Linked DNA regions of Homo sapiens: region 2 is linked to region 1. Evidence: fine-mapped expression QTL. A gene starts in region 1. The other region holds a variant in brackets. All regions are shown on one strand. Distances are between the middles of the regions. Region 1 holds the start of ANXA1 (annexin A1). Region 2 has its middle 21 kb from the start of ANXA1.

Evidence for each region. PIP is the estimated chance that this variant, and not a neighbour inherited with it, causes the effect.
Region 2: its variant is the best candidate, but not a certain one, in a credible set for the expression of ANXA1 in whole blood (INTERVAL, PIP 0.59).

The regions. Positions count from the first base shown.
Region 1 is chr9:73,142,512-73,159,307 of GRCh38, forward strand. ANXA1 (annexin A1) reads left to right here and starts at 9,354. Exons shown (of 13, transcript NM_000700.3): 1 at 9,354-9,413; 2 at 16,011-16,090; 3 at 16,184-16,292. The coding sequence starts at 16,025. RefSeq lists cis regulatory regions at 1,433-1,737, 7,062-7,312 and a silencer at 11,342-11,636.
Region 2 is chr9:73,121,989-73,138,784 of GRCh38, forward strand. No RefSeq gene overlaps it. Among named protein-coding and RNA genes, the nearest start is that of ANXA1, 21 kb to the right of the region's middle. RefSeq lists an enhancer at 10,384-10,803. The variant T/G (reference allele first, on the strand shown) is at 6,127.

The DNA of each region.
Region 1 (16,796 bases):
AATTTGACTTTCACTCTTAAACACAACACTGATAACGGCGTTTCCAAGGCCCCCTTTTTCACAGGCCTTTGGGGCCCACAATATTAATGGATGCGTGTAATCCCATCACAACATGGCCACGAGGGGCAGATATTAAATTTGGATGCCTTCAAAGGTCTAATCATGACTGCCTTTAATGTTATCAGTCCATTCTGCTTTTTTTTTTCTTTTTTCTTTTTTTTTGAGACGGAGTCTCGCTCTGTCTCCCAGGCTGGAGTGCAGTGGCGGGATCTCAGCTCACTGCAAGCTCCGCCTCCTGGGTTCACGCCATTCTCCTGCCTCAGCCTCCCAAGTAGCTGGGACTACAGGCGCCCGCCACTACGCCCGGCTAATTTTTTGTCTTTTCAGTAGAGACGGGGTTTCACCGTGTTAGCCAGGATGGTCTCCATCTCCCGACCTCGTGATCAGCCCACCTCAGCCTCCCAAAGTGCTGGGATTACAGGCGTGAGCCACTGCGCCTGGCTTTTTTTTTTTTTTTTTTTTTAATTAAAGATATTGGCTATGCTTGTAAGAAGATGAGACACTCTTCTATTTATGATCTGTTGGCTGCAATTACCGCTTAAGGCAAAAGTACTGTTTCAAAATCTGCACTACTTATGAGTAGACTATGGAAATCCTATAAGATGAAGATTAAGCTTTTTTTTTTTTTTTTTTTTTTACATAAGCAACAACAACTTATATCACTAGAATGTAAGTTTTGTGAGGGTAGTAGACTTTTTGTCTTGTTCAGTCACAGAATCCCTAGTGCCTGGAATAGCACTTATTATGTGTGATTGCTAATATTTTTTTTTTTTTGGAGAGCTAACACATAGTTACTGGCTACGGTTGAATCACTTTGCTAAATAATTGAATAAATGTAGAGTATTTTGTGTGTGCACCTACAATGTGCAAAGCCCTGTGAAAAAGATCAGGTATGAATATGAATGAGTAGTAAAGAAACAGTCTAGGAGGGGAGGGATACAATATAAAAACAAGTACACTACAAAGTCAAGTAAAATGACTTAGTATTCAAGATCCAACCAGTGTGCAGTATGCTTTTTAGAGAAGCACCACTCCTTTTTATAAAGATTTGAAATTATACTGTGGAGGACTGGCTTTTGAGATGGGTCTTAAAAATGTGAATAGGATTTCAACAGAGAGAGCTCAAACTCAGAGAAAGCCTTGCCCCAGAAATCAGTTTGAAAGTCTTCTGAGCCTCTGTAAGACCAGTAGAAATAATGTCTCAATAGCTGAAATAACTTTAATTTATTAAGCAACGCAAGATCTTCAAGACAAGTAGTGTAAGCAATTCTAAGTGTCCCCTCCTTTGGGAAAAATGTGGTTTTTCTACCATTTTTTTTTTGAAGTGAAATGAGTAATTTGAAAACACCTCTTTTGTTTTCTTCTTTTTCTAAAGATCTCATATTTCAATTTAAAGCATCTGCCAAGTTAAAGTTGACCTGCCTGTTTAAAAATATACAGGTATTTCAAGAAAAGAAATGGTACTATCTTCCCATTACTTAGCTTCAGGGAGGATTATGCAATCCCCTGACAATCTTTCTCCCCTAATTCCCTACTTCCGGGCAAATTCTAAAGTCATGATTCATCAGACCACAGTTAGATATCCTGAACTCTTGAAACTTCTTCTGCAAAAGCAACTTTGTTTGCAAAATGGGTTCTTCATTAATTTTCCCAGAAACACTTTTTTTCTGTTAGTGACATTCACTATACAATAGTTCTCCTCAATGCAGTACTTATTTTTAACAAAACACTGTCTATAGAGTTTTAAAAACTATCTCATAGTTATATTAAATTTAGTACATTCAAGCTGCATAGAAATGTAACTTAGATGTTTCAGTTTAAAGGAAGTTTAGGAAACACTGTATTTTAAGAAGTCCATGAGGCAGTTCTGATCTGCATTTCATTTCCATATTGCAAATATCAAATACTATGAAAATATTTGCCTAACCCATCATTTCTAATCCCAGTGAGTTTTTGGTGCTCCCCCTTCACCCAACTAAGCCTTATTCTCTTTACATTTAGAACACTTTAAGCAAATTTACCTGTGTCCATAAGCAAATAAGTCTCAGCTCCAGGCAGCTGACTTCTTGTTCACCCAGATGGAAATAAAACTACAATGTGCATATTATAAGCACCTGCCACAGCCTCTTTAAAAATGCCAAACCTTAACCAGGCAACAGGATACAGTTTCAAATAGGAAAAGGAGTTTTTGATGGAGCCTAAGAATCTTTAATTCTCTGGATTGACCACTGTAAACCCATTAGCTGAATTTAAATTTCTTGGAGTTCTTCTGAATCTGGCTATTACATGTGGAATTTAGAATTGTTTCTTTTTCACATTTTGCTTATTTTTAGTCTCTCCAAAGGACTCCTGGTTATGTATCAGATTTAGGGAAAATGTTAGAATTTGCATGTTTGGCTTTGAGCTTAAAGATGATCATAGTTATGTAAAGTGTGCAGGTTATCCCCCTTCTTATGTTATATTTTTACCCTTTTTTATGGCAGTTTTGTGGCCTTCCATAATTGTATAGATATATAAAAAATACAAATACTTGAAAAGTTAAGAGGATGATTTTTGTATACTAACTAGCTACACAAGTGTCACTTCTAATATTTCTGTACAATTACGACATTGCAAGACATTTTATTTTAAATTATTTGGTTATTAAAATTTGTCTTATATCCCTTGCTATCATTATGCATGTAGAAAAAAAAAGATGTGTTGTTGCAAAATTTAAGCATTGTTACCTTTAAACTATGGTTAGTGCAAAATAGGTGTCTTTTCACTTCAACTGTAACCAATTCTGCATGTTCTTGGAGGTGCACATCAAGGGACTTTTTGGTGATCTTTAGATTTGTAGGTGCACTGCTGCTTCATGAAAGAGACATTCTGGCCCATCCATTGCCTCCCTTAAGTCTACACGAGTGTGTAGACCCAACTCTACACAGATCGGGTGGCTTAATTAACAGAAATTTATTTCCTCACAGTTCTGGAAGCTACAAGTCCATTATCAGGGAGTTAGCAGTGTTGGTTCCTTTTGAGGCCATGCGGGAAATATCTGCCCCAGGCCTCTCTCCTTGGCTGTGGATGGCTGTCTTCTCCCTATGTCTTCACATCATCTTCCCTTCGAAAATTCTTGTCAGTGCTGTTTCTTAGTCTCTGCCCCTCAGCATTACTGTATTTGTCCCACTAGAGGACTAGGGGTTCATCTCTTTCTTCCTATTAAATCTTCAACCAGGAAAGGAAGATATGAGGAGATCCTCAGTGCAAGGAATGGCCCTCATCTCAAAGGCTAGTAACTCTTTCCTTGTACTGGTTCACCTGTTCTCCCAAATATTCTGGAAGCTTATTTCATCAACTATGCTGTTTTTTGTTAGTTTGTTTGTTTCCTGTGGCTTCACTCTTCTTCTATAGCTCCTCATGGTCTACCTGAGAACACGTTCAGATTTCCCAATGCTACCTCACAATTAATATCTTGTTACTCTCTTTCGGTTTTCCACCATTTAGTGAAAGCGTGTATGTCTAAGAGTTGCCTACACTTAACTCCATATCCTCAGCTCCTATGGTCTTCTCAAACCAATTTCTCTCCACTGTGTTTCCAAAACCCCTTATCCTTAAGGCCACCACCTCTTTCTTAATTTCCAAGTACAAGAGCCATTTCTAAATGACTTCCTTTTGGAGCCTCTTTCTAAGTGACCATTTTGTATCCTTTTGCAATGTTTTTCACAGCTTTCTTCCTGACACTTTCACCTGCAGTTGCGTCATCAGGATTACATTATCTTGGCTTGCTTTCTGCCCCTCTTAATTATCTTATTCTGTGTGTTTTTTATTTTAATAGTTGCTGCCAAATGACTTTCAAACCAACAAGCAAACAAGCACCAGCAATATATGAGTGTATCCTTTTCTAATACCATTTATTGCTGGTAAAGGTGTTACAGAAAATTTGAGGTCATCACCACCCTGATGGGTATATATCCATATACTGTCATTTCTTTAAACAGTATTTCCCTCACCAGTGTAAATTTGAACAACTTTTACTGTTTGTTTGGCAATTTGGATTTGCATATCTGCTGACTCGGAGGCATTTGACTGTACTCAGGTTTCATCCATTTTTGTTGTTTGGATTGCTTGCTTTACAATTGATAAGAGCTCCTGGTACACTGTAGATAGTAACACTTTGTTAGTGCATGTAAGGAAATATGAAGTTTTTGTAAGAATCTACTGATTTTGCTTATTTTTTCCACTTGAGGATTTTTATTTGCCTATATTAAAAACACCTCTCATTTCTTTTATAATAACAGGTTTTAAGCCACAGATTAGTCTCCCACCACAGAGATTATAAATGTTATTCTCAGAATAGATTATCCTGAATAGTGATCTTTTGCAAGTTACTTTTAACAAAGTATAACCATATTTGACTTGTAAATGAGAAAATGAGATTTAGGATTTATCAAGTTTCTCTTTGAAAGAAAATTTCATTTTTCTATTGGATAATAATCTATTTATGATAAAGTTAACCAAAATCACCCCAACCAATGCAAAGCAAACATTTATTGTGGCTTGGTCTGGAAAACTTTCATTACAAATTTAGCTACAAGATATTTACAGAATATCTTGTAAAGTTTATTGTTTGTTTTATATATTTACTCCCATTTTAATTCCAGATCCATCCAGATCCATGTTTTTTTATTTTTTAAGATAGTATAAAGATCCAGTTTTTGTTTAACTATGCTAGTTTAAAGAATTGTTTTAAATCACTTTTTAAACCTATTGAGTTAAAATAGAAATTGAAAAAAAGTCATTATTAAATTTAAGGATATTAATCTTTGGTTCGTGTCATAAATCCATGGAGTTGGCAATGATTATGTGAAGACTTGCTGTATTTTTTGTGTTCTGATTACATAAGAATTTTTGAATTATTATATTAGAAATTATATGGTCCTGGTATATCTTAGAAAGTATATAATCAAATGAAGTTCCTTTTTTTCATAATAGACTCTAGTTTTTAGAGAAATTTTAGGTTTACAGAAAAATTGAGCAGAAAGTACAGAGAATTCTCATATACTCAATTTCCCGCTGCTCTTAGTTTCCCCTGTTACTAATATTTTGGATTGATGTGGTCCATTTGTTATATTGGTGAACCAATATTGATACATTATTATTAGCTAATTGCCATAGTTTACATTAGGGCCTACTCTTCATGTTATACATTTCTATGTGTTTTGCCAAATCCATAATGTATGCATACACCATTACAGTATCATACAGAATAGTTTCACTTCCCTAAAAATCTCTTTTTTTTTTTTTTTTTTTTGAGACATAGTCTCGCTCTGTTGCCTAGGCTGGAATACAATGGGGCAATCTTGGCTCACTTTAACCTCTGCTTCCCAGGTTCAAGTGATTCTCCTGCCTCAGCCTTCTGAGTAGCTGGGACCACAGGCGTGCACCACCACGCCCAGCTAATTTTTTTTTGTATTTTAGTAGATGGGGTTTCATCATGTTGGTCAGGCTGGTCTTGAACTCCTGACCTGATGATCCGCCGCCTCGGCCTCCCAAAGTGCTGGGATTACAGGTGTGAGCCACCATGCCCAGCCCACTTCCCTAAAAGTCTCTTATTTATTACTCCTCCCTGCCACCAACTCCTGGCAACCATTGATCTTTTTACTTTCTCTATAGTTTGCCTTCTCCAGAATGCATCTCATTGGAATGAAACAGACATAGCCTTTTCATACTGTCTTCCTTTACTTAGCGATACTCATTTATGATTCCTTCATTTCTTTTCCTGGTTTAAAAGCATTTCTTTTTATCATTGAGTAATAGTCCATTACATAAACGTACTATAGTCCATGTATTCACTTACCTCTTGAAAAATATCTCAGCTGCTTCCAATTTCTGGTAATTATGAATAAACTGCTATAAGCATACATGTGCAGGTTTTTGTGTAAACATGTTTCCTAACTCATTTGGGTAAATATCTAGGAGCACAATTGCTGGATTGCATTGTAAGACTCTGTTTATCTTTGTAAGAAACTGCCAGACTATTTTAAAACAGCTGGAACCTAGAAAGCAGAGTTTGACCTTTTGACCTTAACACATATCTTCATTTTCCTTCTGCAAAACTTCTTGAAAATTATTGAAGTAAAATTTGTTATTATAGCGAATGTGACAAGGTCTTATTCTCTTACTTTCGAATAATATAGAGAGGGATATGGATACTATACTCAGGGATTAAACAAAATAACTTGTGCAATACAAAATTACTAATCCTAGCATGATCCTGATGTTGGAAGTATACTAGTTGAATCACCAAGTCATTCGCTGACTTTTCCTAAGTCACACAGTAATAGATACTAAGCCACCACCAAATTTGAGTTTTTATCTTCTCTAAGATTTTCCACCCACAAAAGGAAATATAGAGAGGCAGGGAGGTAAGATCTTTTTCCCTAAGTGAAGTCCAACAAAGGTACCTCCCTTTGGCTCTAGCTACCCACATGACTACTTCATTAACCTGAAAGAGTAAAATTTGAAAAAAAATTCTGTCTTTAATTCATGTGAATAACTGAGGAATAATAATAATAATAATCTCAATAACTCAGTGTGTGTGTGATAATTATTTGCCATGTTTAGAGGCAAAGGGAAAACATTTAGAATGTTAGCCCTCAAAATGCTTTGACCTGGGGACACATGAGAAACACACACTAAAATAATGATTTTTGTTGGCTGTGGATAGGGGGTATGAGGAAGCTGTGGGGAGATTTTGGAATATCTGTGAAATGCTGTTCTTGATCATTCAGAATATACTCTTTCTTCCATATAACAAGTAATGCTTAGATAGAGTTAAATGTAAAGGATGAGGGGACAGCTTACTAAGATCAGATATTTTGCAAGAGTCTTATGCACAATGAGATGTATGTGAGAGACTCCATATTTCCTCTCCTTGTTTTGTTTTGTTTCCTCTTCACTATCAGATTCTAAACCAAATGAGTGAAAATAAACATGCTGTGAAAAACGTAACATATAGAGATTGATTTTAACTGTCTTTTTTCTTTCCTTCTCTTTCTTTATTTTCTCTGTTTGTAAAGTAAGTGGAGCCGATGAATCATCATCTTCTAGAAACAGCAAGAGTGGTGAGTCATTTCTCTGGAGTATGTGGCATTTCACCCACAGAAAGCATTTAACCCATGATTATCCCCTCACTGTTAATGATAACATATTTTACTTGTTCTTTTATTTCCATAAATCTACTCGACATTATTATTATGCGGAGAAAAAGATTCTGACAGATTATTCACAGCAATATACCTACATGATTAGTGGCTTTCTTTTTGTGTTATGTTTGGGAGTTTCACTTGCCTTTAGTGTTACAGCTGGAAGTTAATTTTGGAAAAACATTCTTTTCACTTTTTTTTTCTTAATTCTGCTACAATTATCATATTTATTGTTGCTATTTTAGGTTTGCCTATGTATTACAAATCCAAACATATAAAATAATTCCATTCAGTTTATGGCACTGGTAATAGCAGCAACAAAGCAAAATGAGACTATACATGTTTTCTAGGTTGTTATATTTTATAAAAAGTAAGTGGAATTTTTTCTTCATTTCACAAGAGCATCACTGTGCAGGAATGTTCCAATAGTTCCATTACCAGAGTTAGGAATACAAACGCAAATTAAAGAAAAAAAGAAAACCAGATTTTGTATAATCATCTTATTCCTTCTCACCTGATGACATAAATATGGTATTAGAAAGTTAGTCTACATCTGTCAAGATCAATTTGCAATAATATCAATTAACTTAACTTGTTAGCAGGTAACTAATTAATTTTCAACTTACACATATGATAGTAAAAACATATATTGACATTTTCTTAAATATTTAGATTAGATGATCATCCTACTTCAGGATATGTTGACTTCATTGATATTGGCATCGAGCACTTAGAATGTATTATAAAATACTGCCAATCTTTAGAAAGTATTTTCATTAACTTCCTAAACTTCATGTTTTTTATGTGAAATATCTATGAGGAAAAGAGGAAAAAGAACAAACCACTAAATGCAGCATAAATTGAGCCATAATGCTGTGAGATTTTACACCTGTGCACTTTAATGGAAACATCATATAATACTTTGTAGGGTTTAAAGAAGAATGAAAATGAACCACTATGGAAGTTACCAGAACCAATTTTCCTCCATTGGGTGGGAAATTTCTTATGGAATGTGTTCTGTAATAGTTGCTGCTCCATTAATCCTTTCATTTTATAGGTCTAGTTCCTTGTTTTGGTGTTCAACTAGTCTACAATGTCAAAGATGTGTATCAAAATGTATATATAACTGATCTATATTACAGTTTATATATATAGTTCTATGTAACTGACTCTATTTAAAAGAATTAATGTAGATAGGCCTTCTGATGTCAATGCTTTTATTGAATGTCATAATGATCAAATTTTTGGCATTACCTTTGTTCAAAATTTTGAGCCAATCTGGAACTTTATTACTTCTATATTTCTTATTTATAACAACAAGCTATATCTAGGAACAAAAGTCGTTTATTTTTTAAGGCAAGAAAAATATAAATAGAAAATTATTCGGCACTGTGTAATGTTAAAATTTACAAATATATGTTATTTCTCCATTGTCACAAGAATTCTAGTGGGTAGACAACTTAGATAATGCTCCTATATACAAAAGTAAAAACAGCTAGGCATGGTGGCTCACGCCTGTGATTCCAACTCTTAGGGAGACAGAGGCAGGAGGATAGCCTGAGCCCAGGAGTTTGAGACCTGCCTGGGCAATATAACGAGACCCCATTCTCCACAAAAAGCGGGGGAAAAAGACAACAAAACAAAAGTAAAAACAGGTTCAGAAAAATTAAGTATGTCCCTAAAGTCACAGAATAATAAGTGATGGAGGTGGAATTCAAATGTAATATTTTGTTTGTTGGTTTGTTTAGTTTTGAAGGTAACATACTTTTTAGTCTACAACCTATTTAACTACAAAAGTGTGCCAATCACTGGTATTAGGATTGGGGCAGATGTATACTCTGAAAATAAAAGTGCAAAATAAATATCCCATCTGGAAATAAAAGTGCAAAATAAAGAGGGAGGAAAAATCAGCCCTTCCATTTCTTTTCCTTTGTAATGCCAGTTGAATTGGTTTAGTGAGTAGTTTTGCAAGACTTGTTTCACTTTGTTTTTGGACATAGCTGAGCCATGTACTTCAAACAGAAGGCAGCCAATTACTAACTTCTGGTTGCTAGGTGTGGCTTCCTTTAAAATCCTATAAAATCAGAAGCCCAAGTCTCCACTGCCAGTGTGAAATCTTCAGAGAAGAATTTCTCTTTAGTTCTTTGCAAGAAGGTAGAGATAAAGGTAAGTCTTGGTTTTCCTTTTAGTTAGTTTTGGTTGTTTTGAAAACTTTTCTCATCACTATGTTAAATGTTACTGCTTCTACAGGATTTATGGTTAGTTGCATTTAACATGATAAGTCATTCATAAATCTTTCTGTAGAATTACATTGGATATTTATATTTTAGGAATCACAAATTACAATATTTTTGTTCTACTTAGTTAACAAATACAAGTAAAAATAAGATAAGTTTGCTTAATACTGGCTCATTGTACTCTTGGTAAGTTACCATGAGAAAGAAGGGAAGAATGTGCTTTCCCTCTGGTAGCCTTAAAAGAATGTGTTTTTCCTTTCCTTCCCCTTGAAATATTTCTTCCCAAGAGCTGTGTGTTTTACAGAGAAATCGTGATGGGGGCTGCTTTTTGGGGGCAAGAACAAAAGTGATAGGAGTGGGCTGCAGGGAACTGTTTCAAAATAGTAGGACTTTCATAATTTATTTTCTTCTTTTGTAAGGAAAACAAGATAGATTCAGACCTCAAAGTGCTAATCATGCTCTTTGTAATAAACATTTAAAAATATATGTTATATTTGCTTATGCTATTTAAAATAAGAAGGTCCGCTTATTACTTTTTTCATTTAAAGAGGGTGTGGCCACATTCCTTTTCTTGTAGGCTCTGTGTCATATACAGTCTTTTCAAGTGCTGGCTGGAAAACCTAAAAAGAAGGGAAATACTTTCTGGGTAGTGTCAGATACATTATCCTAGGGGAATGTCAGTGAGGCCCTCCAACAGCTATTCCACTTGATTGTTGCATGAGCTAATGGCCATAAAACTCCTTAGAAAAGCACAAAGCAAAACTAAAGAAGAGTATTTACTAGTGTTGGATATATTTGTAAAAGTGAGATTACAAATCATGTATCTGGCTATTTTTTTCTTAAACATGTTCCTTCAAGAATTTTTCTGTTCGTTCATTTTAAATATTTATTAAATGTTCTGATTTCTTATGTTCACTGCTAGCTAATTAACAAGGATGGAATTTTTCTTGCCTTGGTTATATCTAAAAGATTGTAAAAACTTTGAGAAAGCAATGTTGCCCTCTTTCCACAGGAGTATTTTGGTAGCTGTAAGAGAATGCACATTGCAAATGACTCAAATGTGGTAAAATGTTGGTTTCATAATTCTGAAATGGCCTCTTCCCCAAAAGTGACAGTAACACCCTAGCTCCAGGCTCAACCACATCCAGCACATAGCCAACATTTAACAGATGTTGACAAAATAGTTAATAATAATATTATTAAGGAACCAGCCAGAGTTTCATGCTTATTAAATACTTTTTCAACCAGAAGGTCTGCAAAGGTTGATTTCTGAATATGACGTTAGCTCTCTCTAGACCTATTAATTTACGACATTTCAAATCAGAGGTAAACCAGCAGACCTATTATTTTTCAATGATAAACTATAAACAGTTTTTTGAAGTCAACTATTTCCTTTTCCTTTAAAATTGGACAGAATTTCATCAGGAAGCTCAGAACAATCCAATTTATATAATGCCTTCCTTCATTATGCTAATTTTCTTCATCTTCATCTACTTGAAGTAATATTTAAGATTGGCACTTCAGAGCTGTAAATGGATCTTAGATGATAATTACTTCAACATTCTTATTTTATAAACGAAGACCCTCTGGAGAAGCTAAATGTTTTTCTTGAGGTCAGATCGCCAGATAATCAAGAACCAGTATACTTCAATTTGTATTTTATATCCTATAGTTGTGGGTAGAAAATGTTCATTAAATTAGTGTAGATATGTTTTTTAAAATATTAGCAATGATACATGATATTCATTCAATAATACTTATTAACATCCTAAATTCCAGGCATTTTGCTAGGGATTGGAAGTACATACATAATGAATATTATTATTTGTATGTTAGCACGGGCCTCATGGCCTGCTCCTGGGGAATATAAACAAGCCAATGGAAAGTGATAATACAGAAAGGTGGGGCTGGTGTAGGGGTGAAGTCAGGATGCTTTGGGAGAGCATGGAAGGTCACCGAATCCAGTGCTGAGGAACTAATGAAGGGTTTCTGAAGAACGTGATGAGATCAATGCTGATGAGTCACTTAGAAGTAGCAATTAGTTAGGCAAAGGGAAGTGAATGTGGAGGAGGAACAAGCATTCCAGGCAAGAAGAACACCCTATCGAAAAGCCTGGAAGCAAAACATTAGTGAGGCTACCTTTCATAAATTGCTTTCTGTAAGTCATGCCATTGTGTAGTCTTAATTGCTTTCTCTCACCAGGGAAGGTGTGGGAAGGACTTGTGAAATACATATTCGAGGAAAAACTATGCACAAGGCCGTGCATTTAAAAATAAACTCCCTAAGGCTGGGGTGAAACCTGCTACGGTCTGCGCAAGTTGACTGTTAATGAATTTGATTCTCAGGTGTGAGTGATTAAAAGAACACTGATCATGTCATTTTCTTTTTGGTCACTAATTCCCTCCCTCCCTTCTCTTTCTTTTCTTTTTTCTTTTCTTTTCTTTTTCTTTCTTTCTTCCCGACAGAGTCTTGTTATGTCGCCCAGGATGGAGTGTAGTGGTACAATCTCGGCTCACTGCAGCCTCCGCCTCTTCCTGGGTTCAAGTGATTCTCCTGCCTCAGCCTTCTGAGTAGATGGGACTACAGGTGCACACCACCATGCCTGGCTGATTTTTGTACTTTTGGTAGAGACGGGGTTTCGCCATGCTGGCCAGGCTGGTCTTGAACTCCTGGCCTCAAGTAATCTGCCCACCTTGGCCTCCTAAATTGCTGGGATTGCAGGTGTGAGCCACCATGCACAGCCAAAATATATAACACTTTGGAATCAAAAGGGATGGATTTATGTCTCCATTCTTGCCACTACTAGCAGGAAGACTGCTTGAAAATAGCACTCAGTTTTCCCAGATAGAAACTGAGGATAATGATTAAAGGCTATTATTCCAAGCAAGGGTTAGTCATTGCTGTTACTATCATTGCAAAACTCTGATAGTTCTAGATTGTAACCAGGAAGATACAATCAACCACAAAACTCAGCTTCCTCTGTCACAAATTCTAGATAGAGGTAGCCTTTCATGAGGCTGAGAGATGGAAAAATGAAGCGGGGGGACTCTCTTAGGACACATAAATATGCAAAAAAATTGCTACGCTTTAGAAAGCTATACATTCAAATCATAGATAAGCTGACATTAGTAGGCAGTGCATGTTCACAAAAAGACCATTAATTAGAAGAAATGTGAAATATTGTTAATTTCCTTATAGATTTGCCTATGTATAAATGGCCAATTTCACCGTCAATGAGCTCATGCTAAGTACTGAAATAAACTTAGTTTTAGAGCTTATCTTTGGTTAGTTGAAATCTGTATTGAGTTAGTTGAAATCTATAAGTTGATAGAACAGGCTCTTTAAAATCTATTGCAAGCTTTATACACTACAAACAAAAAGATAGAAAAAAGAAAACCTTTCATGAACTCATTGGCTTAGGCAGGTTTTCATGCAGAGTGTAGGTATTGAAGAGTCAGAACGGCTTAAGGATAGAATTTGGCCAATATATAAAAAAATATATATTTGGTATTTGTTAGTTGTATTATAATTATTCAGAAGTTCAGTTAATACGTGCAGTTGGCTTTGAGCCCTTAACCAGCTGTATGTGATAAAATCTGTTTCCTTTAGAGCAATTTCTTATATCCTGCCTTGATGCTCCTGTCTTTAATCTTTGCTAAGAGCTGGTGGTGAATTTGGCTGAATTCAGATTCCGTTTTTCTCTAATTGATTTCTTGAAGAAAATTCTCTATTGGTTGCTTTTCTTTCCTAGATTATGCTTTTAGTCTATCCAAATACTTCAGGCTAGAATGTAGGAACTTAGAAGATACAAATCACAAAGCTGTCTCCTCTAGGGATGCTCTCTCTTTCAAATAAGTGACTTAAACAACTTATTTTTGTTATCTTGTGTTATGTAATTAATATACCTTTTCCTGGGCTTTCTCTGGCTTTTTTTTTAAATGGACATTATTCAAGTATTTTTTAGAAGTAAAAAAAAAACAGTACAGTAAAGTTTTTATAACGTTTATTTTGAAGTTGTCAGAGACACCTTTAATATTAGACTGGACAATATCTTTAGTCTTTCTTTTGCTTTCTTTTGAAGTTTTTATTTGCTAATTGAAAAGAATGGAATAATAATAATAATAATAATAAATAAATAATAATAATAAATAATATAAATAAATAAATAAATAAATAAAATAAATAAATAATAAAAACATGTTTTTATAAGTGATGGAGTAGTACTTTGCCAAGTGATGAATTTTAACACTCATTTTGATGATTCTTCCTTATCAAAGCCTTGGATGAAATGATGAAAATGGAAATTTTGAGTGCCTGAAGCTGCTAGAATTGCTTTTAAAGTATTGGGTGTGCCAATTAAGAAGGTGGAATATGAAACTCCATGTGGCAACCGCAATTGCATGAAACTAGACTGTAATGGGAACTAAAACCTTGTGCAAAATTGCGGGTTGTTACTTTATCAGGAAGCAATTTTAAGTCTATCAATTATATTTAGGAAACAGGCTGCTTTAAATGAATGGAAAAAGTATTGGTTCTTCTCACAGATGACAGAATAGTAATAAGAGCAATCCCATGCGAATTAAGTGGGGATGATTTCTGCTTTGGATATTATTTTCTTCATGCATTCAGTGTTATTACTTGCAACTCCAGTTACTTTTTAGCAGGTGAAAATGGAAAGAGTTTGTCTGAACATGCTGTTGAGGAATCAGTTTATGGAATCAGTTTATGCCTCATGAGTCATTTATCTTCATATCAAGAATTTAAAACTGCCAAGATTGTCCTCCCAACCTCTCTCACAAACATTCATGAGAGTAGTCTCTAGAGGGGTGAAACAGAATGGTGTAGATAGACAGATCAGTGTAGACCTTGAGCAAGGCCTCTGAAAAACATCCCCAGACTAAAAGGATCTGTGATGGCATTTTGTGTGTGTGTGGCCAAAACAGAGAACACATTAATTTTCAATATACTTAAGATCTTAAAAATATATGTCTCATTAAATAAAAATATTGCCAAGTCATGATAGCAATTCAAGAAATTTCCTTTAAGATAGAGTTTGCCAAAAGAACATGCATGTTACAATTGCACCTCTAGGCTTCCTGCTACAACAAAAAAATCCAGTATAAAATAATTCTTTTCTGGGTTTTTTGTGTTGGGTGGGAAAATATGTAGGACTACTATTTAGACAGCTCAAATAGGAAGAAATGTGAAGATAGCAATTACTTCAATGCTGAGTACTTTTATATCAAGAAATAGAAAAGGAAACTAAATTATTCAGGGAGAAATATCACCTGGATATCTTTTTACAATTAAAATTTTAAATCTGAATTCACTTGTACAGATTGGCACAAGTTATTTTACCTTATAAATGTAATCATTGGCTGGGAGTGGTAGCTCACACCTGTAATTCCAGCACTTTGGGAGGCCGAGGCGGGCAGATCACTTGGGGTCATGAGTTCAAAATCAGCCTAGCCAACATGGTGAAAACCTGTCTCTACTAAAAATACAAAAATTAGCCGGGCGTGGTGGCTGGTGCCTGTAATCCCAGCTACTCAGGAGGCTGAGGCAGGAGAATTGCTTGAACCCAGGAGACGGAGGTTGCAGTGAGTCGAGATTTCACCACTGCACTCCAGCCTGGGCGACAGAGAAAGACTCCATCTCAAAAAAAAAAAAAAAAAAAAAAGCAATCATTAAGCTTTTCATCTAGCCATTACTTTTGTACAGGCTCTCATTAATTCCACATAGATGGTCTAATGGTCTACTAAATAGTATTCTAATCCTCCATCTTGTCTATCTCTTAGCCATTCTCCATGATAAAGGATGAATGGTCTTTCGGAAACATAAATGAAACCATGCTGCTTTAAAAAAACAAACAAACAAAAAGAAACCCATTAATGTTTTCCCAAAGCTTTGTGGACACATTGAAGCTTCTTGTTTCAGCTTCTGCCAACATTTCTCGCTCCAGCAAACTTTCTTCTGCTTCCCAAATATGACAAGCTTCTTCTTTAACTTTTCTGCCAGGTTAATCTTGACTCATTTCAAGAGAGGCTTGGGTCAGCCAGGGCCTACTCTAAGAAGTTTCTTTAGCCCTTATGTTTTCCTATGGAGAGCACACACTAGCTTTAAGTCCTGAGGGTACTTAAGATGATATTTCAATGTTTTTGTACTCTTAGTGCTTGGCATATGGTGGGTGGTCTACAAATTTAGAACAATGTAGTGAACCACAAACTCCTCTCTTCAGCCTGTGTGCTTACTTGTAGTAGTTGTCTGATCTCTAAAATTTAGAACTGAATATGCCAAGAAAGAGTTCAATTTCAGAGAGGAGGGTATGGTTTCATTTTAAGTATAAAAGCTTCCTTTAAAAAAAATTACGTCTTACATTTTGTTATGCTCCTAAGTGTAATTGATCCTGGAAAGTAAGCGCAAGGCTACTCTCTAATGCTAACTCTTATGTATGTAAGAGGTGAGGAAGGAGAGGTTGTGTGTGGTGCATTTGTTTTGTAAAAGCATCTAACTGTTTTCTTTCCAGACACTTTTTCAAAAATGGCAATGGTATCAGAATTCCTCAAGCAGGCCTGGTTTATTGAAAATGAAGAGCAGGAATATGTTGTAAGTAGAGTGATAATAAAATTATGATTACAATATTGAAATAAAAACGAATATAAGTAAATGGCCATTAATTTATTTCTCTCTCATTCTTAGCAAACTGTGAAGTCATCCAAAGGTGGTCCCGGATCAGCGGTGAGCCCCTATCCTACCTTCAATCCATCCTCGGATGTCGCTGCCTTGCATAAGGCCATAATGGTTAAAGGTAACGTGTTTCCTCAAAACAGTTCCCTCCTGGACATTTCAGAATGGCTATTTGAATGACTGTCAAAAAACAGACATGTGCAATGGAAAGAATCTGTTTCATTTTGAAGATAAAAACATTTCTTTGCCAAACGAAGATGTAATTATTTACTTAACACTGAGGAAATTGTGTTCACATCAGTGGAATCTCTATTGTTACAGCAGATATTACTGGCTCATTTCTAGCAGAAATTCCATGCTGAAATTAAAAGCTCTGTTCACATATAGAGTTGCAACTAGTATCAAACACTGCAACACTGAGGGCCAGGAAAAGTTAATTGTCTCTTCCTTTCTCACTCGAATGAAATGTCATTCTCCCAAGTGCTTCCTTGATATGTAGTATAGCATCGATTTTTTAGGCTGATATATAATTTATATTTCTTAATTTGTTAAGAAGTTCTTTTGGAGCATCTCAGTAATGAATTATTTTATGTCAATTGATGATGAAGAAAATTGGTGTTAAAGG
Region 2 (16,796 bases), 21 kb before region 1:
AAGCTCTATGTAGGCAAAGTGTGTCTTTTTCACAACTCTACATCCACCTTCAGTGTCATTTTACTATTTATTGTCTGTTTTGTGTTCTATAATATAGCAAACAAGCAAGTGCATGTCTCTTAAATCAGACGTGATAAAGCTATCATCAGGAAGACTAGGAATATCAACTGCTAGTGGCTTTCTACTGGGGGAATACAAGGGGTTGGGAGATATTTTGGAACAGGGTTAATCGCCTTGTTTTCCAGCAATCATATCAAAAATTAAGTCACATCTACCTGGTTAAAAAAAACAGTTTTGTAGTAATTTATTTTTGTATTTGGTGTTGAAACTTCTAATGTTTCTGAAGAATTTGAAAAATTAATTCCTGCATTTAGTCAACAAATATTGATTTAATGTGGACACTTTAGGAATAAAAATACGAATCAGATACAGATTTTTCCTTCCAGGACAGTAGACTCTCCTAAGAGAAATACACCATGTACACATGGAACAATGCTAGAAACTAGGATGTAAAAAGTCCTTTTACATAGAAAGGGCTATGAGAAAAGTAATAATAAAGATAAGAAAAGAGAAAAAAATCTTTTCAGGTAGGAGATTACAAGAAGACATTTGGAGGACTGGTGTGTCCATCTGTTTCTGTTGGGGGTGAAATAGTAAGTGGGGGCATTTCTCATAGAATATAAATTTTGAGACACTTAAAAGAACAACGAACAAGTTGTTTTATCTGGAATACAATAGTTATTACAAAGCATAACAGAAGGAACTGAATTAGAAAGGGACAGTGCATCTAGACAGTGGTATTCTTCAATAATTACGGTGTGAACTCATTAAAGGTATTTGATCAGAAACCTGGATAATTCAGAATTATTCATGAGGACAATTTAATCTGGTGACAACACATAATTATAGGGAAGAGGGGAAAGGTAACATTAGAGAAGGGAAACCCTAACAGAAGGCTATTGCAAATATAACAAAGCAAAAGCAGTGATATTCTAAATGATGATAAGCTCAGTGAGAATAGAGGGAGAGATGAGATAGAGAGGGATCAGTTATCAGCATTTATTGAGCATTTACTCTATGCTAGGCACTGTGCAGAGAATTCTGTATGGATTATCTCATTTTAACTACAGAACAAGCTTATGAGGTAATATGAAAGAAATAAAGCTTTGCATTTTGTTTACAGTCAGGAAACAGCCAAAGACTGCCTTTTACACTTTCATAAGATGAGCTGCTCCTGTGTGAACTGCTTTCCCTCATACAAGAGGCTACAGATTAGTTGGAAGATCAAATAAGATAAAAGAAAAAAAGAACTCTGAACTTATTCATAAGCTGCCGTTAATAAATGGTAAACTATATGAACTAACATTATTTCATACAGCAGACTATTAAGATTTCAATACTTTTTTAAAAAAAACAATGATTTCTAGGTTTTAGAGTTAATACAAAATAATGGCCTCTTTGGCAACATGATTTGGTGCATCAGAGAGTCTTTATTATCTTTTTACATTGGAGGTCAAAAAAGATGGAGAAAGAATCTTTAATTTATGATAAAGGACAAGAAATGTTCTAATTTTATTTCTATTTCATCATGGCAACCAAGGCAATTTGTAGGACAAAACCTGAGTGAAGTATGTGTTTAGTTTTATAAGTTTGATTTATATCTATCTAAGGCTCCTGGCTCAGTCTGATTGTTATTTATTATTACTTTTCAATAAAAGCTAATTTTTAATCTCAAGAAAGAATATATATACACACATATATATGTATATATACACACATATATATGTATATATACACATATATACACACATATATGTGTATATACACATATATACATACATATATATGTGTATATACACATATATACACACTATATATGTGTATATACACATATATATACACACACATGTGTATATACACATATATACACACTATATATGTGTATATACACATATATACACACACATATGTGTATATACATATATATACACACACATATGTGTATATACATATATATACACACACATATGTGTATATACATATATATACACACATATATGTGTATACATATACACACATATATGTATATACATATACACACATATATGTATATATACGTATATATACATATACACACATATATGTATATATACGTATATATACATATACACACATATATGTATATATACGTATATATACGTATATACACACATATATGTATATATACGTATATATACACACATATGTATATATACGTATATACACACACATATGTATATATACGTATATACACACACACATATGTATATATGCGTATATACACACACATATGTATATATGCGTATATACACACACATATGTATATATGCGTATATACACACACATATGTATATATGCGTATATATACACACATATGTATATATGCGTATATATACACACATATATGTATATATGCGTATATATACACACATATATGTATATATACGTATATATACACACATATATGTATATATACGTATATATATATATAGTGTGTGTGTGTGTATGTGTGTGTGTATGGCAATGATTTGAATGCCTCTTCTGAAACTCATGTTGCCATTTAATTGCCATTGTGACAGTATTAAGAGGTAGAACTGTTATGAGGTGATTAAGTCAGGATGGCTCCACCCCATGAATGAATTAATGTCGTTATTGCAGGAGTGGGCTCATTATTGCAACAGTGGGAATTTATAAAAGCCAGTTTGGTTCTCTCTTGCTTGCTCTCATGCTCTCTTGCACTTCCGCCTTCCACCATGGGATGATGCAGCATGAGAGCCCTCACCAGATCCTGGCACCTTGCTCTTGACTTTCCAGCCTCCAGAACTATGAACCAAACAAATTCTGTTCATTATAAATTACCTGGTTTGTGGGTATTCTATTACAGCAACATAAAATGGATAAAGACTATATATATATATACACACACACACACACACACACACACTCACAAATATATATTCATATTATATACTTAACTGTATTCAATATTAGCATCTCAATTTTACAGGTTAAAAAATATTCTGAAGATTAGTTAGCTAAATAGCATACTCAAGGTTGTACAGTAAGTAAAAGATTCAGAAATTTAAGATAATTATTTACTTATTTATGGATCTTTCAATTTATTTATGTATATTACACCATAAAAAAACCACCTTAATGAAGACAGGTACAGTTGACCCTTGAACAGCATGTGGGTTCGGAGTGCCAACCCTTTGTATAGTCAGAAATCTGAGTAGAACTTTTAACTCTCCAAAAACCTAACTGCTAAATAGCCTGCTGTTAACTGGAAGCCTTTCCAATAACATAAACTGTTGATTGACACATGTTTGTATGTTATATGTATATATACTGAATTTTTACAATAAAGTAAGCTAGAAAAAATGTTATTAAGAAAATCATAAGGAAGAGAAGACATATTTCTTCTCAATGGAAGTGCAGCATCATAAAGGCCTTCATCCTTCTCATCCTTAGGTTGAGTAGACTAAGGAGGAGAAGGAACAAGAAGGGTTAGTGTTGCTGTCTCAGGGGTGGCAGAGAAAGAGGTAGACAGGTAGAAGGGGAGGCAGGAGAGGCAGGCACACTTGATGTAACTTTTACTGAAAAAAAATTAATGTATTAAGTGGCCGTATGCAGTTCAAACCCATGCTGTTCAAGGATTAACTGTGTATGGACTGTTTTTCACTCCTATATTTTCAGTACCTAAAACATTTCCTGGCTAAATCAATATGGTTGCATAGATAAATGAAGGCAAGTAGTATGACCTCTGAATCACTATTCTCAGCCACTGAATACTGCAGCTTCTCTGGAGACACTCAGAGACTTGGATGGATGAGGAATAAGGGTGAGGTGCTGTAAGTCAGAGAAAACTAGGATGACACACACATGAGTAAGAACAGGTTTAAATGAGATAATATTACAATATTAGAATATATGCTGATTTGTGTGCTCACCAAATGTTTGCCTTTTCAGTTCACACCTTGTCCAACTTTGTAACAGTTATGGACTTTTGGGTTTTTTTCCTCACAATAAGCCTATGTTCTGTAAGCATGAAGTTATTGTGTTTTAAGATTTTTAAAAAAATTTTACTTTAATTTCTAGGATACATGTGCTGAACGTGCAGGTTCGTTACATAGGTATACGTATGCCATGGTGGTTTGCTGCACCTATCAACCCATCATCTAGTTTTTAAGCCCTGCATGCATTAGATATTTGTCCTAATGCTCTCCCTCCGCTTCCCCCCACTCTTTTTCCTATATGTGTTAATTGGAGATTGGCTGAATTGGAAAGTTAATATTTTTGTCTATATTTAGTTTCTAGGATTTAAATACTAACTCAGTTTTGTTTCCTGGGAATAAAATTGTCTCTTTATTGTATTATAACATGAGATTTTGATGTTTTAATTTGTAGATTTAAAAGTTAATTCACACTGGTTGTGAATAAAGCATTTGTGAAACTAACATAAAAATAGTTTCCCATACAAAATATAATGTCCATGCAATATTTATTTAAAAGTTTATTTTAGCTCCGGAAAGGTGTTGAAGATTATTCTATTAAAAGTTGAATTGTGTTTGGGATATTTTCTATTGTATGGGTATAAACAATGTCCCCACATAAATTCATTCTTGAAGATAACCCAAAGCCCCTTTTACATTAATTTCTCATGTCACTTATAAAGTAACATGCAACATTTTCAATTTCTATTATTAAAAATAGTACTAAATGATTTCACATCAATTCTTATATTTGACAGAATAAAAATATAATCACCTAATTTTTGTATATATTTATATAAAATATTCCTAATTTGAATAAAAAATACTATACCACATTTACCATTTTGTATCTCTTTCTATTAAGAACTGCATCTCTATGTTTTGTTCTTAAAAGTTTGAAAGCTGGATCATCATTCTTGTAATTTTTTTAGATAATAAGAAAGATGTTAGGTATATTAATTTTGGAGTTAAAGATTCATAGTAAATATCTTTTGCAGGCAATGAATATGTAAAATTATAATCCCAGGTAAAGATAACAACCATACAAACAGGCCGGATACAGTGGCTCACGCCTGTAATCCCAGCACTTTGGGAGGTCAAGGCAGGTGGATCACGAGGTCAGGAGTTCGAGACCAGCCTGGCCAACATGATGAAACCCAGTCTGTACTAAAAATACAAAAATTAGCCAGGCGTGGTGGCATGCACCTGTAATCCCAGCTACTCGGGAGGCTGAGGCAGGAGAATTGCTTGAACCCAGCAGGCGGAGGTTGCAGTGAGCCAAGGTCGTGCCTCTGCACTCCAGCATGTGTGACGGAGCAAGATGCCGTCTCAAAAAAAAAAAAAAAAAAATCATACAAACAATAGAGATGAGGAGCGAAAAAAGTAAGATCAACTTTAACATTTTACTATATGGTAGAATGTCATTCAATGAGTCATTATATTAATTAGATTTGGAAATATAAAATTATGTACAATCAGATTTAACAAAGTAGACTAAAATATGGGTCTTATTATTAGTCCTTTATGGAAGCAAAGAGGTTCTGCCACTTGTGTGATTGTTTACTGCATTTTTTTCTTACATATAGACAACAATTCTCAAAGTTGGCTATGCATTTTGTTTTTTAGGACTGTGATGGAAATCCCTGTGTGTGCAGTTAAGAAAACAGAATTTAATATATATTAAACTAAGCAGAGGCTTTAATAGTAATCAATCAACTAAGTGTTCTTTTTATTCTTCCAGTATCCTAGACTTTCCTTATCCTCGGTTAATGTTGTACCTGGTGGTCTAAATTGATCATTCTGTGGGGGACACATTTCCTCAGCCTTGAAGGAACTGTGCTCTTGGTACCCTGCCCTCATCCTACTACAGCTGCTGTATTTACTCATTCACTTTTATCAGCAGGTGGAGAAACGTCAAGATGTATCCAAATGATCTTCCCGGGTCCATAGTTGATACTCTATTATATAAAAGCTATCCTGGGTAAACTTTTTAGAGCAGCCTACATTGACCAAGTATGAGTGGCAATTTCAGGTTCCTTTTCTGGAAAAAACAGGATGTCTAATGGAGCAAAAGCTAAAATTGTGAGGACAGAAA[T/G]CAGGTGTTCTGCAAATGGTTTCCTGGCAATGAAGGCTTAGGGCCAGAGAAGACACCATGGGTGCTCTTCCCTCTGATGGCTCTTTCACTACATTCATAGCTGCCTCAGTGTGCTCTCAGTCCCATGAGACAGCACCCTGTGATTATCAGTGGCTGCTGTATTAGTTTGCTAGGGGTGTCTTTAAGACTGGGTGTCTTAAACAATAAACATTTATTTTCTCAAGGTCCAGAAGCCAGAAATGTAAGATTAAAGCATCAGCAGGTTTGGTTTTTCTGAGAAAACTCTCTCACGTGGTATGGCAAGGAGAGAGGCCATTTCTCTTTAAAGGCCCTATCTCCAAAACAAGTCACATTCTGATGTACTGTGGGTTAGGACCTTAACTTATGAATCTGGGTGAGGGACCTGCAATTCAGGCTGTCACAACCACTTTATCTGCACAAAAGGGAACTAAATATGCCTGGAAATTTACATTCCCTCAGTCATAGCTCTAAATCAATGACTGGTAGGTGCACAGGTAAGACTTTACCTCTATTGACCAATTCAGAGTTGAGATCTATACTGTGCCCAGAAATGCATGGCAGGCTTGAACAAAAGATGTACTTCATTGGAAATTGCTTGATAATGCATCCTTTATTGGTCTTCTTCTGTTATTATTCCCATTTCTCTGTAATTTCTTGGGAATATACTCTAATACATAAGTTACACACAAATTTTCATCATAAGATTTGTCTTTCGAATGCTGTTATGGGTTGAATTGTGTCCTTTAAAAATATATCTTAAGGTCCTAACCTGTAAATATGACCTTATTTGGAAATGCAATCATTGTAGATGTAATTAAGGTAGGGTGAGATAATGACACTATGTTAGAGTGGGCCCTAAATCCAATATGAATGGTGCCATTATAAGAAGAGGGAAACTTGGACACAGAGATAGAGACACTCAGGGAGAATGTTATCTGACCACAAGGACACAAAAAGGAGAGTGCCATGTGAAACCAGATGTAAATATTGGAATGGTGCATCTATAAGCCAAGCAATGGCAAAGATTGCCAGCAAACCACCAGAAGGCAGGAGAGAAGCACAGGACATAATTTCGTTTGGAGCACCCAGAGGAAATCAACCCTACCGAGACCTTAATTTGGAACTTCTATCCTCCAGAAGTGTGAGAGACTAAATTTCTGTTGTTATATGCCAGCAAGTTTGTGGTACTTTCTTATAGCAACCCTAGGAAACTAATGAAGAAACGCAACTTGAAAATAGGTTATTTCAGAAGTGGTCCTAGGAAGCATACACTTAGGAAGGGATTCTGAGTTAGATCACTTGCCATCTGGATAACAACTGGATCACACTGTTGGAGATTAAACTGTTAAAAACTGAAAACTCTAGCACTGTCATTGCATAACTTTTGCCAGTGGTGAGTTGGCATGGGATACAGATGAAAGGAGACTACACATGCATTTCAGAGCTATGGGGGGATTTATTAATTATAAGATTTGGAAATTGGTTGGTTGTTGCTAAGTGTCATTGTGCCGAAGAAGAAAATTGACAAGCTCAGGTTTGTCCGTTACTAACCAGGGGCATGGTATGAAAGATTGGAGGACTCCAGGGCAGCATTTAAAGAAACCCATGCTTTCTATAGCTAGAAGACAGATTGAAAGGAAGACTGGATGATAAACTTTACTATAAAAGTAGTAGAAATACAACAAAAGATGAGTTAATAGCCTTGGCAAGGTTTTATGCTAAGTCAGAACCCTGATAGAGATGGTGCAGAGAATTGTAGGTGGATGTGCTCAAAATTATAGAACTCGCAGATTCCTTTGAACCCCTGGGCATATAAGAGTGGCTTATTTAGTTTTGCTGGAACATAGCAGCTTTCTCTTGCTTGAAGGCCACACCAAAACCTCAACCGAGATGGATGCCTTTGACGATGATATTTGTCCTTATCAAGATCTGACTTCACTTTCTCTCCTGTCTTCTAGTTCTGTATCTAAGTCTCAGCATGGGCCAACCAGGGAAGGGAAAAAATTACTCTCCAAAAGAACATCAAGACGTGATTAATTTGCAGCAAAAGGAATCAGGACAGCATGCCAGGAAGTATATCTTGATAGCGCTGGATTGGGGTGAGAGCTGGGGATAGTGAGAGAGAAGCTTGATAAAGGAACATTTGTCAACAAGGGAACATTCTTCCATGACTGAAAACTCCCTAACAAGAGCACCTGGGAATGGTTCTAATACGCTGCTTGGATGGTTACTAAAAGTTCTGTAGGGGGAAGAAAAAGGCTCACATTAAATTAAGCAGAGATGACAGAACTGCTTTAGCAGAGTTTTGAGGAAGGGCTCAAAAGGCTCAGAGAAGTGAGCATGCTAGAATGATTCTATTGTGTAACACCAGAGAGACTACCAGCTGATTATGTTCATTGAAGGGCCAGAGAACATTCTCATCACAAAGCTGATAAGGAATGTGCTATTGATGGAGGGATTGGCATATTTGAGAAGCTTAGTGATAGCTGGACCGAAGTTGACAGTAGGCAATACTGTTAGAGAACTGGGCTCCCTAGTGTCAATGGAAATGATTATATTCCAGAATATCAGGGGTCAAGTGCAATATAGTCAACCACTAGAGATCTATGGTGATGGCTGATATCCCAAGGTGTTTATCGAGAAAAAATAGATGGATAGACAACAAGAGCGTGGTTGGCTATACATAATCAAGGATGATTAAAACTGGATGAGCAATTGGAAGCCTCATGTCATCAATGCCCACGGAATATTACTTCTTGACCCAGTTTAAAAACCTGCACCAATTCTCAGACCCACAGAAGGAAGCTGCAATGCCACAAGCATACACAGCAGAGATTTCTGTGCATACAGTTGTATACATTTTAAAAATAATCCACTTATAATTTGAATTACAACCAGGGAGTCCACTATGCATATTCTAGTCTCTTTATCTTGGGTAATGATGCTTCTCGTCTCTGGAATACCCTTTGGCACCTTCTCTATGTGAGTGCTATTTCATGTTTTAAGGCTTACAGTAACCTTTCTCGATGACCTCTATCTCTTAGTAGAAATCACGTTCTCCAAACAGCTATCTTGTTCATTTAACATTTACTATATTCAGTTTTGAATGGTTGTTAAAATTTTTATGTAAATAAAAGTTTTTTGGAATTGTCCATTTGATATATTTAATTTATTCCATTTATTAAACTTGAAGTAGACCTTCGAGAATCAATTATTATTGATTCTCAAAATGCAAATATTATTATAGTTATCCCTTTATCCTAGATTGTTAATTGGTTGAATTATTTGAAATCCTTGAGATAAACTAAAATAGACAGGAATACTTAATACAGAATGATTAACTTGGGTAGATAGACAGATTAAACTTAGCTTTTGTTTAAAAGCTGGAATTCTAAGTAGTCAACATCAGATGAGTCAAATGAAAATTGATACCCATTGTAGAACTAATGAATGGTCTTGCAGTTTAAGTCCTTTCTTAACTCTGTCATCTTTTACTTTGTAATGACTAAAAAGCTACAATTACTATCACAGGAGTCTTCAGTATGTTACCATGCCAAAACTGGGAAATGTGGCTGGCTGTTTCCTAATGGAAAATTGTTAGCTTCTTGGCGACATGAAGAAAAGGATGTTGGGATTGCCCTTTCAGACATCAAAATTCATTACAAAACTTTAGAAATTAAGATACTGTGGTACCGGGAACGAGAAAGATCAAAAAATAGACGGAAGAGAACAGAGAAAATTGAAAGACATATCTATATGTCTATATCTGCACATACAAATATGCATATGCAATCACACATAGTTGATAAATCTCACAAGAAATAAAATTTAAAAGAAAGAATCAAAGTGAATATGGTGTTAGTAAAAAAAAAAGGCTATGAATTTTTGAATACTTTTTCCCAAGGTGGTGACATTCCAGCATATACTACAAACAAAAGAGGCCATTCACCGGATGATATCATCCCTTCAAAAATAAACTTATCCTCAATTTCCTGATTAAAATCAGACATTCTTCTGCTTGACAGAGGTCCTTACTTCCTGTTTTCTCTAGCATTTGCCAAGTGGCTCTGAGGACTTCGGTGTAAGAACACTCACTTAACTGTTCTGTAGTGCTGACTTTGAATACTTGAACAATAACCCACATTTCTAAATTTTCAATTTAAATAATGGTGCTTTTTGTTTTTAATTTTGCCTCATTTTCGAATCCTAAGGCTATTAGAACAACACCAAGATGACAGTGTTTCTGCTGTAACTTCCGTCTGCTTCTGCTTCTCAAAGTTGTGTAGTATAATTATTTCTATAGCAACCAGCCGAGGAAATGCCTTGCCAGCACACAGACTCAAAAGAGAAACATGCTGAGACAGGCTCAGCCGTGGGGCTTCGGAGCGCCTGGAGTTTCCAGCATTAAACGCTACAGCTGCAGAAGCCCATGCTGTTACCTTCTCTCCTCATCCGTTTTTAGTATTTGTAATATTTCTGGCCCTCCCACATCTTTGGCAATGTTTTCTAACGTCCCTCTTCTCTTTCTTCAGTGTTTTTCATAAGAACGGTCCTTTCATTTCTGTTTTATGACGTATAGTCTTCTGATAATAACACGATAAGCATTGTGGTGGTTCTGAACATACAACGAAATTAGAAAAAGTGGAATAATAAATAATTCACTTGTTTTCCTTCAGCTTCATAAGGTTTCTACTAATCTGTTTTCCTTATGGGCCAAACTCTTAGAGAAATTTGATCAGGTGCCTTTAAAAATATAGAAACACGTTCAGAGAACTTCAAAGAATACAAAAAATAATGTATTTCTTTTCCAAAATAACTTCACTTTCATCATAAAACATGAAAAATGGTGAAAGAATCATTTCCAAAAGAAAACCTAAACTTGTCTGATTTCAGGACACACTTTTATCTTTAAAAAATTTTTCCTTACTGTTGTGAAAGGAAAAGAAAAGCTCAGGACCCCAAATTCACTATGCCAAAAGGGAAGAGTTAAACTTGGAAGCTGAGTCATAAAAATAAATAAATAAATAAATAAATAAATAAAACAACCCAAATCTGCCTCTCCTTTTGTTCCTAAATTGACAGCTAATGTCTTCAGAGGGGGCATCCCTCACCCTGACAGTGTAAATTAACAGTTTATCTTCACTTCAAGGGTACAGAAGTGTAGGAAAATGACACGGTGAAATAGATGGGTACTCACTGGCAGCAGTTTCATCAATTCTAGCTTCAAATTGTCACCTAATGCCATTGTTTTATTCTGTAACCTATAGATTTACTTTGTAATGATTGATTCTGTAAAATTGAATTATAAGGTTTATTTTTGTTAAAGTTTTTTTTTTGTTTTTTTTTACTACTTTTAGTTTTTTTTGGGTTTTTTTTGGTTTTTTTTTTTTTTTTTTTTTTTTTTTTGTGACAGAGCCTTGTTCTGTCGCCCAGGCTCTGGAGTGCATTGGTGCGGTCTCAACTCATAGCAACCTCCACCTCCTGGGTTCAAGTGATTCTTCTGCCTCAGCCTTCTGAGTAGCTGGTATTACAGGCACCTGCCACCACGCCCAGCTAATTTTTGTACTTTTAGTAGAGACAGGGTTTCACCATGTTGCCAGGCTAGTCTCAAACTTGTGACCTTGGCCTCCCTAAATGCTGGGATTACAGGTGTGAGCCACTGCGCCTGGCCTTAATTTTCATTTTCAATGAAAGTTTTGTTAAGTTTAATTTTAAAAAAACTTGATGATTCAAGGTTTCATTACACAAACTCAGGTAAAGTTACTGGATGAATGAATTCTTTTGTATACCTAATCCTGTAAACAAACCAGTAAAGGAATAGAGTAGCCTCTATATTTAAAATTCTGTCCCCAATATATGAAACTGACATAGTGCCAATGCAAATTAGCTCCCTTGCTGAACATTTTCATTCACACTGTACACACCACAGTGAGCCAGGACATTTCTTTCTCAGTAAGATGTTCAGAACTCTGGCCAACAACTGGCTTGATGTTTGCATTTTCCATGTGACGTAGTGTTTTCCTTGGTTGACTATTATGGCCCCACCCTGATGAGCCAGTTGTAGCAAGCCAAGCCCCAGCTTCTGTACCCAGAAGATATTCCACCTCTTGCTCAACAAAGCAGCCTTGGGTGTTTATGACACCTGAGGTAATGGTTCACAATCGGGATTCTTTCAAAAAGTACTCTCAGATTGATACTCTCTGTGTTTCCACATATGTCCCCTCCATGCTTTCAGAGAGGAGTCATGCATCCTAGAATCAGCCATGTATTGTGTCAAATGGCAAGAGGTATTTCCTGGAACATTTCTTAATTGTGTTGCTCTTTTTATTGAAATTGTGCTAAAATATAAATTCAGCACACAGGAAAAGAAACCTGTCCGTGGCCCATTAGAAGTTTCCAAATCGCCTCTTATTTGAAAGTGATGAACTATTTTTGTTAGATTTGTTGTTTTTTAATTTCTCAAATTTATTTCCTGAAGAAGAAATACAGTGTTTCCTAGGGTTTTGTTGTCGTTGTTATTTTTAAAAATAATTTATTTCATTTTTTAAGTCCAGATCTGTAGAAAATATAAAGTTTCTTTTTTCTCTGGGAGCTCTCATCTTGAAGAATTATTTGAAATGTATGATTATTAGCCTAAGAAAGCTGAAAATCAAATAAATTATGTTTTGATCTTCACAATTAGCAGTGTTTTTACAATATAATTTTTCATATTTTCTCTAAATTGTACATTCATATCATTGATGTAAGCAAAGTATTTTATGTTATAAAATTTTTTAAATTTCTAGAAAGATAAATAAGACGTGAATTTCAACCAATAGTGTCAACAATTATTTAAATACATTTTAGACACAGAATGGCAGAGTATTTAGAAGTGTATTGAATTTGATTACTTTCTAAAACGTGTGAGATCAGAGTAAGTCTTAATATCTATCCAGTTGACTTAATTCATGCTTTAATATTTTTCTGCTTGGTTTGTTTTGAAGATAGAAAAAAGCATTTTGTATTACATTTTCTGTAATCAATATAACTTACATCTGGCAATTTTCTAAGGAGTGTAAATTTGTTTGAAATACAAAATAAGTTGCCTAGAGAATCAGCTTATTTATTTTTCCAAAGTACTTTTAAAAAATTGGAATCTAAGCATTTATTTATAGTCAATGACTTCTAGTGAATAGAGGCTAAGAAATAATGAAAAAAAGGTTTAAACATAAGAACTGAAGGATAAAAGCTAATTCAAGAACTGAAAGAATTTCAGAGACTATATTAAAGAAAATTATGAAAAAGAGTTCAAGAATAATCAACCCTGAGAAAAGATCATAAATGGACAAAAACCAGGCACACACAATGCCTTTGCATTGCATTCATTTCATTATAAAGACAATGAGTAAGTTGAACTGTCTCATTATTTCATCACTTAGCTTTGTCTCAACTGTCAGGTATGAAAAATTACTGAGAAGAATAAAAGTTTTGAAAAGGAAAAAAATTTGAAAAGTATGAACACACTATGAGTGCTAACTCCAGAATAGCTGGTTTTTCAAGAATTATACAGGAAACTGAGTAATGATGTAGTAGTTAGAAGCAAAAGTGTAGTTCTGAGGTTCTCACACACTCCCAAAATGGAGAAACAAAGGGGATACTTGTAGTTCTATGGGATTATACATATAGGAGTTCATGGGTGATTTTTCAGCACTAAAATGTAGCTGTATATGGGTTCATAGACACTGAAGTCCTCATATTTTGGCCTCTATTTGATTTTATTATAAATCCAAAATTTTGCCTTCCAGGTAGAATTTTGGATAATTTTATGCCTCCAAATGTCAAAGGCAAGCTGGGCATCATGATCTGGCATAAAGAACCCTTCACTCAAAGAAGGTAAAAGATCTAGATTCAAGTGGCAACGTCTTTATTTAGCAATCACTGGCTTTAGCTAAATCCAAAATTCACTGGGCTTCAGTTTGAAATATGTACAATGGGCCAAGTGTGGTGGCTCACACTTGGAATCCCAGTACTTTGGGAGGACAAGGGGGAAGGATCATCTGAGCCTAGGAGTTCAAGACCCACGTGAGCCACATAACAAGATCTCTTCTCTATAAAAAACTAAACATATGCCTGGTGTGGGTAACATGTGCTTGTGGTGAACTATGATCACACCACTGCACTACAGCCTGGGCAACAGAGTGAGACACACAGTGTGTGTTTGTGTGTGTGTGTGTGTGTAATGATCATGTCACCTTCCCACAATACAATTATGAAGATGAAATAAATATACATGGAAGAGTTTTATAAGCACTAAAGTGTTAAACCAATGGGAAGTTTCACTCTTGACTGTTGTAGCAGATAGGATTTCACTTCTTTCTCTTTTATTTAAAATACTTTGTAATTACATATTTGAGAGGAAAATGCTAGGCACTTATCAATGTCTTTGGCCTCAGAGTGGTTTTGTACCAGATCAAGAATCAAGCAGTCAGAAGACAAAGTTCCATGTGGTCAGTTACATACTTTAGTGGCACCATGACCTAAATGTCGGCATGAAGACAAATTTATCTATCTATACTCAAAGATAAACACACACCTATAAATACATGTATTTTATTCAACTAAGAAAGTAGGTTGAAACCCTCCATTTGATATGTCTTATATAGTGAATTATTACTAAATTTTTACTAGTTCTAATTAGTACATTTTTGGCACTGCATTTTCAATATAAAATGGCCTTAAATTGAATAGTGATTGTAATTAGATTTATCTTTCTGAATCAAAATTTGCTTTATTATTGTTAGAAAAATCTCTACAGTAATGCTCAGCAAAGTGCCAATGAGGCTTCTATGCAAGAATCAGAGTAGAAGGAACATATTGTCATAACTGTTGTCTCCTTGATTCAGGTCCAGTAGCAGAGTCTATTACTTCCATGTGTTTAAACATTTTTTTCCAAATTTAATACTGCAAATTATCACTTGGCCAAAAATATTGAGAAAACATAATTTACTTCTTCCACGAACCTTGACATTGAATGAATGCTAAATGCACACCATGCATACACATTCACATATATTTGTCTGTACTATAGCAGAACAATACCAATTCAGTTTTGTAATTTAAATGGCCAAACCTTGTTACAGTAGGTAAAACATTTATGCTCCCGAAGAGTGTAAAAATCTTAGACAATGAGAGTTACTTAAATCCTGAAAGTTGCCAGGGATAGTCATAGGGCCGCTGGTCTTTTCAGAGAAGTTCAAGCTTGCCTGAAAGATCTCAGTATGTGGCAGAGTGTACACTAGAGGGTGGGATCTGTTGAGCTTCATTCTTAATCCACAAAGAATCAGCTAGTCAGTCAACCATAAATAAACACAATGACATCATTACCTTGCCTCTTGCCACCTGGGCGTAATGCCCTGCAAAGTTTTATGTTTCAGAGTTTCAGAGTCATGGGCACAAGAACACTGTTGATTGATTAGAAATATTAGCAATAGCCAATGCATTAAAGAAACAAAGAGTGTTAATTCAGTTTTACCAGGATGGATTGAATTCTCTCCTTACTCATTTGACTTCAAGTAGCTCTGCACTGGCCTCTCGTAAAGTATTTACTCAGGAACTTATCCAAGTCAGTGAGGTATTAACAATGCTTTTATCTTTGATTCTCTTACTTAGCTTCATCCTTAATATGTTCTTACCCCCAACAACCCTACCACCTCCAACCGGTTTTTAAAATTATACCCAAGTAATATTTATTGTTCCTTACAATGAGATCATTATAAATTCCATTTTGTTCACTTTGAATTTTGTTTGTTAAGGACATACTCGCAACATGTTATTAAACAAGAAAGCCATTCTTCATTATTGTCATCATATTATCAGCAGTGAAGGATTTCATTTTAAGATGAAGAAAGGGGGAAAAAGAATGTTAGAATGCAGATACTGAAACTAGAATTGATTTCACAGATATTAATCTTCTGTATCTGTTGCTCAATCATGGGACTTGTGTTGAAATATGGAACAGGTCAGTATCGGCTCAGCTTTATTCTGCTCAAGTTCTCCTTGCACATATCCTTTTGGGCTACTGTAAGAGAAATATTACCAACTTTCCAATGCTGAAAAGTAAAAAAGATTGCCCTCTCTATTTATTATTAAAGAACTCCTTGGACACATAAGCTCATTCTAATATAGAGGCACCTCATCACTCATTATTAATTTAACAAGCATTTGTTAAGTGCCTATTATGAGCCAGGCACTGTGCTAGGAAATGGGACCAATAAGAAACAAATGAATTTATAGTCTGTTGGGGATACACACATTAAACTCCTAATTACACGGACTTAATCACACAAATAACTATATATTCACATTAAATTCACTAAGGAAAACTTCAGTGTAATTCCTCTTAAGTCATAGTTATACGTTCATTTTTCCCCCTAATTCTGAATGGGAATGCATGAATAACAATTAATTTAAATACCTATTATATATTGAGCATGGCTCTATGTGGTAGGTAGACATGTCATTTGAAGTCATAAGCAAACTAGCCTTAGTTCAGATATGTCATTTAATTCACTTTGCCTTTAGGGAAGAAAGTCTAAAATTCTGTGAGTTTCAGTTCTTGTTTATCATCAGAAAAATGGAAATGGTAATAATTTCCAACATGATAGTTCTGA